Linked DNA regions of Homo sapiens. The protein of the gene in region 1 purifies or fractionates together with the protein of each later gene. This does not show direct contact. Each region holds a gene or a part of one and is shown in the gene's direction. Other genes may lie near its edges.

What was found.
Region 2: the proteins of NAA25 (region 1) and PARP9 fractionate together in Homo sapiens (co-fractionation; one large-scale study listed by BioGRID). This does not show direct contact.

The regions. Positions count from the first base shown.
Region 1 is NC_000012.12:112,046,188-112,050,007, reverse strand, and holds part of NAA25 (N-alpha-acetyltransferase 25, NatB auxiliary subunit), read left to right. Parts: intron 1-396; exon of another isoform or gene 397-525; intron 526-1,564; coding exon 1,565-1,716; intron 1,717-2,217; coding exon 2,218-2,343; intron 2,344-3,396; exon of another isoform or gene 3,397-3,820. UniProt on the Homo sapiens protein: Non-catalytic subunit of the NatB complex which catalyzes acetylation of the N-terminal methionine residues of peptides beginning with Met-Asp, Met-Glu, Met-Asn and Met-Gln. May play a role in normal cell-cycle progression.
Region 2 is NC_000003.12:122,540,044-122,543,863, reverse strand, and holds part of PARP9 (protein mono-ADP-ribosyltransferase PARP9), read left to right. Parts: intron 1-3,011; coding exon 3,012-3,392; intron 3,393-3,820.

The DNA.
Region 1 (3,820 bases):
TGCCTCTACACTTGGTAAGGCTGGGTTCCCTCCTTAAATCATAGCATACTTTGGAACTGTAATTATAACTTTGATTGGAATTACTAAAGTCATATTTTCTTTTTGATTAATTACTGAATCATGTGTTCCTAACCAGCTGTTTTTTTTTCCCCAGCTGTAAGTTCCTATTACAAGGGCTAATAGTAGTAAACCTTGCTGTGTTTTCTAAGCCAAGGGGCCATAGGATAGGCATATGTGTTTAGAGTATCCTGGCCTCCTCTTGATAGGGTGTATCACTGTCCTTTAATCAAGCTAGAAGGTATACTCGAGCTTTTTCAGGTAGTCCTTCTTGAAACCTGCAGGATCACAAGTAATCTTTTTAATTTTCTTGTGTCCGTCCGTCTTTAATTTCTCCAGATACTGCAGGCAAACAGCTCGCCGAGGTGTCCCATGGGGGTTTAAAAGCCGCATCGAATGCAGTTGAATTAGCGCCCGTGGCGCAATCCCGCGGCCTGAAATGAACCCTGCAAGGCTGTATATCAGAGGGTATGTTGTTGACTATTGGCCTATTTTCCTACTGGGCAAATTATTCAGACGTAATGGAGATGGGGGCAGAGCTGATTAACTGAGGCTGTGTAAAAAGACTGTTTTTTCTAGAAAGGATCTTTTTTGGGGGCAGACATCAGCTTTGAGCATAATAGTTTCCTTGGCCCAAAGGGGTAATCTCCTGTCTTCTGATCCTGATGGCATAGACCCACACCCATGAAATGTTCTTCCCTGAGATTTTCTTCTATTGTGCCAGAATTTCTGCTTAGAATTCTTTATCTTGCCTCTGTTCTGTAATGTTTGATCTCTGTATATGTATTAAGCTACAATTAAAGCACATGTGGTGAATGTTCCCTTCACATACTTGTTTAAGGAAATTTCCAGCAGAGGTCTTACGTAATGTAGATGGACAAGAAACTTGGTTCTTGAAGTCTTTGTCCTCAGAATAGATTATGACATGAATTTTGATAGGTCTTTTGTTTGGTGTCTTACTTCTATCCTGACGTAATGCTCATATGCCCTGTGTTTCTAATACAGTATTCAGAAATAAGCAAAACCAAGGAGCAGCCTGTCTTTTTCTGAAGGAGAGTGGTTTTTATTTGGGGGGGCGGGGGGCAGGTGGTTCTATTATTCTGGTGCTTTTGGAACCTTTGTATGAAACACAGTTTATCTTAGATGCAGAAAAACATGGAGTAACATCCCTTCCAGAATGGCACTAACCAAATTTTTGACTGATGTGGCAAAACAAAACCTCAGTTCCTATTGAATTGAAAGACATGACTGCCAAGAGAAGGCTTATGTGATGGTGGCAGAAGCTGGTTATTACAATTAGTAATATTAGTAAAGGAGACATTTGTCTAAAGTATAAGAAGGAAGAAAAACATTTTAAAAAGCTAATATTCTACTTGGTGACCAAGACCTTTAAAGATTAGATTTAAAACTTAATTTTAGTTTGAGTGTTTTGTTTTGGCTGGCAAGGTTTGCTTACATTGCCTGACTTGTGAACTATTTATACCAAGGTGATGTCTTTCCTTCTCAGACCTCAGAATATATTATTCAAGCTTACAAATATGGTGCATTTGAGAAGATCCCAGAGTTTATCGCTTTTAGGAACAGGCTGAATAATTCTCTTCATTTTGCACAAGTCCGTACTGAACGGATGCTGTTAGACCTTCTACTTGAAGCAAATATGTAAGTATTGCATGAGAGCTATAAAGGAACTAAGGGATTAGATCAGTTGTTAAGAGCCATTAATGGGCTCATGGGTGTTATTGGCAGGCTTAAGGTAAAATAGGGGGAAAAAAGGGAGAGAGACAGTGGGGAAACAGAACTTGGCACATGTCATGGGGAATGGTAGAGTACTGCCAGCAACATCTTGAGACCATTACAGAAGCCATTTAGGTCATGGTCATCAATGCCTGGTCCATATTGTGCTTACGAAGGTTCCGCCTCCCCTACAAATCAAGAGATTTCAGGAATTAATGCTGATCCCCTTTGTTTTGTGTGGGCTTCCAGAAGCCTTTTTCTTGCCATGTAGCAAGCCAGTTTGATCTGCGCTTGGTTCTATTTCACCTTATTATGAGCCCTTCCTTCCTCTTTCCCTTCCTGTCTAGTAAAACAGGAAGTCCTGATTAATAATATTTTCTGGCTATTTTACTATTAAAATAATATGTGGATTTTTCTCTATCACAGATCAACCAGTTTAGCAGAAAGTATAAAGTCAATGAACCTTAGGCCAGAAGAAGATGACATTCCATGGGAAGATTTGCGAGACAACAGAGACTTAAATGTTTTTTTCAGCTGGGATCCAAAAGACAGGTAACTGGAATTTAACCCCAAGCAATTTTTAAAGTTTTTGTTTGTTTTTTGTTTTTTTAAAGAGACCAAGATCATAGCTCACTGCAGCTTCGAACTCCTGGGTGAAGCAGTTTATTTTTAAAGAATTAGGTTGGGCTGGGCACGGTGGCTCAGGCCTGTAATTGCAGCACTTTGGGAGGCCGAGGCCGGTGGATCACTTGAGGTCTGGAGTTCGAGACCATCCTGGCCAACATGGTGAAACCCTATCTCTACTAAAAATACAAAAATTACCTGGGCGTGGTGGCGTGTGCCTGTAATCCCAGCTATTCGGGAAGCTGAGGCAGGAGAATTGTTTGAACCCAGGGAGCGGAGGTTGCAGTGAGCTGAGATCGCACCATTACACTCCAGCCTGGGCAACAAGAGCAAAACTCCATCTCCAAAAAAAAAAAAAAAAAAGAATTAGGATGAATCTAAAATTAAAAAAAACAAACTTCACTTTACACAAATATAAAATAACATGTGTTTGTTGTAGGGATCAGAAAATATAGGTAAGCCAAATGAAGAAAGTATAGCTCACCCCTATGCTGGGACTGCTGGTTAATCTAAAAGTTAGATCTACTTCACAGCATATATGAGAATTCCAGATCGATTAAAGACTGTATGCTAAATTCTAGATTCCTTAGAAATTCTAGAAGAAAATATAGAAAATATTTTTAAATAGGTGAGGAAAGCCTTTCCTAGTATTATACCAAATCTGGAAACATAAAGGATTTAACTTCTGTAAATAGAAATAATAAATTTGTTAAGTTCTAAAGGTTTGTAGTAAATTTCTTCATACAAGTATCCTTCATATATAGAGAGAACTCTTAATAAGTCAATAAGAAAATAAGAAATTGGGCAAAGAAACACATCTTACAGCAATAAAGATTTTGTTTCTAGCAAAAAAGATGAATACTTGTGGTCAGCAAGGCTGTGTGGTAAATACTTATTATGCATTTACACAGGGATAAATTTTATACAGTCTTCCTATAGGGAGTTGTAGTGATATGTATCAAGATTTAAAATGCCACATACCATTTAATTTGGCAGATCTGCTTCTAGGAAAGTAGAACCTAAGGAAATAAATGCAGAAACATGCTAAGAAGTGTATATGAGGTAGTTCTGAAAATTCTGTGATTTGTGGGTTGCCAAGGCCACATTCAGTGATTTAGGATTGTTGAGTCCCAGAAGGATTCACAGGGCTGAGCATATAGTTGCACTCAACGGCTAAGGTTTATTACAGTGAAAGGACACATGACAGAATCCGGAAGGGAAAAAGGAACAGGCACAGTCGGGAGAACTCAGACTTCCAGTGCTTTCTCCCTCCTCTGAGGGGAAACACTGAGTATGCTCCTTTCTCCAGCAGGGAAAAATGCAGTAACACAGGTGGAATGTTCCTGCTCAGGGAAACCCAGTAGAGACTTGGTGCTTAAGGTTTCATTGTTATGTGGGTACACTC
Region 2 (3,820 bases), on another chromosome or scaffold:
CAGGGCAGGTGGATCACTTGAGGTCAGGAGTTCGAGACCAGCCTGGGCAAGATGTTAAAACCCATCTCTACAAAAAATACAAAAATTAGCCAGGTGTGGTGGTGCATACCTATAGTCCCAGCTACTTGGGAGGCTGAGATGGGAGGATCACCTAAGCCCGGGGAGGTCAAGGCTGCAGTGAGCCATGATTGTGCCACTGCACTCCAACCTGGGTGACAAATAAACAAAATGATTAATGATGATGATCTCAGATTATCAAGGAAAGGTTAAATAAACTATTTAGGAAGGGCCGGGCACCGTGGCTTACGCCTGTAATCCCAGCACTTTGGGAGGCTGAGGCAGGCGGATCACCTGAGGTCGGGAGTTCGAGACCAGCCTGACTAACATGGAGAAATCCCATCTCTGCTAAAAATACAAAATTAGCCGGGCATGGTGGCACATGTCTGTAATCCCAGCTACTCGGGAGGCTGAGGCAGGAGAATCGCTTAAACGTGGGAGGTGGAGATTGCAGTGAGCCAAGATTGCGCCATTGCACTCCAGCCTGAGCAACAAGAGGGAAACTGTCTCAAAAAAAAACAAAAAACAAACAAACAAACAAAAAACTATTTAGGAAGGCAGAGAGGTGGTACGTTATCATTAGAAATATTTAATTCAGCCGGGCACGGTGGCTCATGCCTGTAATCCCAGCACTTTGGGAGGCCGAGGCAAGTGGATCACCTGAGGTCAGGAGTTCGAGACCAGTTTGGCCAACATGGTGAAACCTTATCTCTACTAAAAATACAAAAAAGAATTAGCCAGGCATGGTGGCGTGTGCCTGTAATCCCAACTACTCAGGAGGCTGAGGCAGGAGAATCGCTTGAACCCAGGAGGCGGAGGTTGCAGTGAGCTGAGATTGTGCCACTGCACTCCAGCTTGGGCAACGGAGGGAGACTTGGTCTCAAAAAAATAAATAGATAACTCAGAGTTAAAATTCAGTGTATTTTGGTGCTAGAAGAGTTATCCTTTAGTGATCCGAACAATTTACTTATCTAGAAGAATAGTGCTCGCTTTGCCAACACATATACTAAAGTTAGAATAATAATTATTGGCCGGGTGCAGTGGCTCACGCCTGTAATCCCAGCACTTTGGGAGGCCAAGGCGAGCAGATCATGAGGTCAGGAGTTCAAGACCAGCCTGGCCAACATGGTGAAACCCCATCTCTACTAAAAGTACAAAAATTAGCCGGGTGTGGTGGTGGGCGCCTGTAATCCCAGCTACTCGGGAGGCTGCAGCAGGAGAATCGTCTGAACCCAGGAGGCGGAGGCTGCAGTGAGCCGAGATTGCGCCACTACACTCCAGCCTGGGCGACAGCCTGGTGTGAACCCGGGAGGCGGAGCTTGCAGTGAGCCAAGATTGCACCACTGCACTCCAGCCTGGGCAACAGAGCGAGACTCTGTCTCAAAAAAAAAATTAGTATTATTATTATTATGATTATTGGCCAGGCATGCTGACTCATGCCTGTAGTCCCAGTGCTTTGGGAGGCCAAGGTGGGTGTATTGCTTGAGGCCAGGAGGTCAAGACCAGCATAGTGACACCCTGTCTCTAAAAAAAAAAAAAAAAAAAAAAAGTAGTAGTAGAAGGAGGAGGAGGAGAAGAAAGGGGTAGGGGGAGGGAGAGGAGAAAGGAAGAAGAGGAAGAAGAAGAAGAAAAAGAAGTTTCTCTTGATAATAATGGATAAATGCAATATCACTATGCATTGTTTTTATTTTCTCCTAAAAAATAATATAATCTCCTAGACAGAACAAGGGTTTTAAAAAAAGTATGCCTCCAATATAAAACCTGGGTTACTTCTTACTGTTGTCTAAAACCTTGGCTTTTGTCTTTTTTATCTTTACTCAGAGGAAGGCCATCCTCCCCATCTTACTTCTAGGTCTGTCCTTATACTTCTTTTGTAGCTCCTGTACCACACAACTGAGATCTCAGGAGAAAGATGAGAATTTCCACTGCTATTCAGATATTACTCACTGGGAGGCATATGTGGGAGCACTGGAGTCAGATGCCCATACCTACTAGCTTCATGGCCACCACTAACTAGTCCTATAGCCATGGGCAAGTTACTTAATGACTCTGTGAATCAGTTTCCTTGTTGGTGAGATGGGACAACTACTAGTATCTTTCTCATAAGGTTGTGAGGAATCCTGAGTAGTGGAATTACAGGTATTTCTTCTTTCCATTATATGTCGATAATTTCCCAATTTTTAAATAATAAACATGTATTATTCTTAAAATCAGAGATTCATGTTTGTTTTTTAAAAAATAATTTTGACTCTTCAAGCTCTGTGTCTTTCAGAGATGTTTGATTTTAAAACTAGTAGCAAGAGGTTAAGGAAAATCCTATTCAGCAGGAAATAATACTTAGTTAACATCCAGGGTGAGATCACAAGGTGAACTCATCTGTGAACTGCCAAATGCAACATAGCAGAGGCAAGAGACGATAAAGCTAATCCATTACAAGCTAAACTCTGTGTTCCCAAGGAGGCTGTAAACGATACAGGTTGATTTCCTTCATACCCAATGCAGCTTTCAGAGATAGGTACTTAATTGAAGCTGCTACTGCTGACAGTGGTGACAATATCATAGGGGTAAAACACTGGCCATGGTGTTTTGTTCTGCACTGTTTTAAAACCCACTAGTCGGCCGGGCACGTTGGCTCACGCCTGTAATCCTGGCACTGTGGGAGGCCGAGGCAGGCAGATCACGAGGTCGGGAGATTGAGACCATCCCGGCTAACACGGTGAAACCCCGTCTCGACTAAAAATACAAAAAATTAGCCGGGCTTGGTGGCGGGCGCCTGTAGTCCCAGCTACTCGGGAGGCTGAGGCAGGAGAATGGCGTGAACCCGGGAGGCGGAGCTTGCAGTGAGCTGAGATCGCAGCACTGCACTCCAGCTTGTGAGACAGAGCGAGACTCCATCTCAAAAAAAAAACAAAAAACTGCTAGTCTTCCATGGTTGCTTATTATAGTCATTTCAGTCCCCCAGTCAACCAGAGAGGAGAAAAGAGAAAATGGGCTTGAAGCTAGATCTCCTGCCATCAATCTGATGGGATTCAACGTGGAAGAGATGTATGAGGCCCACGCATGGATCCAAAGAATCCTGAGTCTCCAGAACCACCACATCATTGAGAATAATCATATTCTGTACCTTGGGAGAAAGGAACATGACATTTTGTCTCAGCTTCAGAAAACTTCAAGTGTCTCCATCACAGAAATTATCAGCCCAGGAAGGACAGAGTTAGAGATTGAAGGAGCCCGGGCTGACCTCATTGAGGTGGTTATGAACATTGAAGATATGCTTTGTAAAGTACAGGAGGAAATGGCAAGGAAAAAGGAGCGAGGCCTTTGGCGCTCGTTAGGTGAGTAACTTTCTATCAAATTAGAAAGTAAATTCTCCCCATTGTTTCTTCTTTTGGGTGTGAGCGTGTATGTATGGATGTGGGTAAGAGACAGAAGGAGAGAGGAGGGATCAAACATTCTGGTTCTTTGTTAGATCATAAGCCTTTGTGAGCTATTTTTTTGCTCTCTTTTGACAATCAGGGTTATTTGTGAACACATACACAAACACAATTTTATTTACTTGTAATAACCTTGATTGTCTAAGAGGCAATTACATGGAATTTTGGCAGTGGTAAAACTCAAGCCCAAGCCATGGGGAAAAGTATACATTTCTAATTCTTCAGATGCAGCACTCAAGTGTAGACACATTCCATCTGATTAACTTATTTCTTTTATCAAGTTTTATTGTATTTATTTGTCACTGACAGCATTAGGAACGCTAAAATTA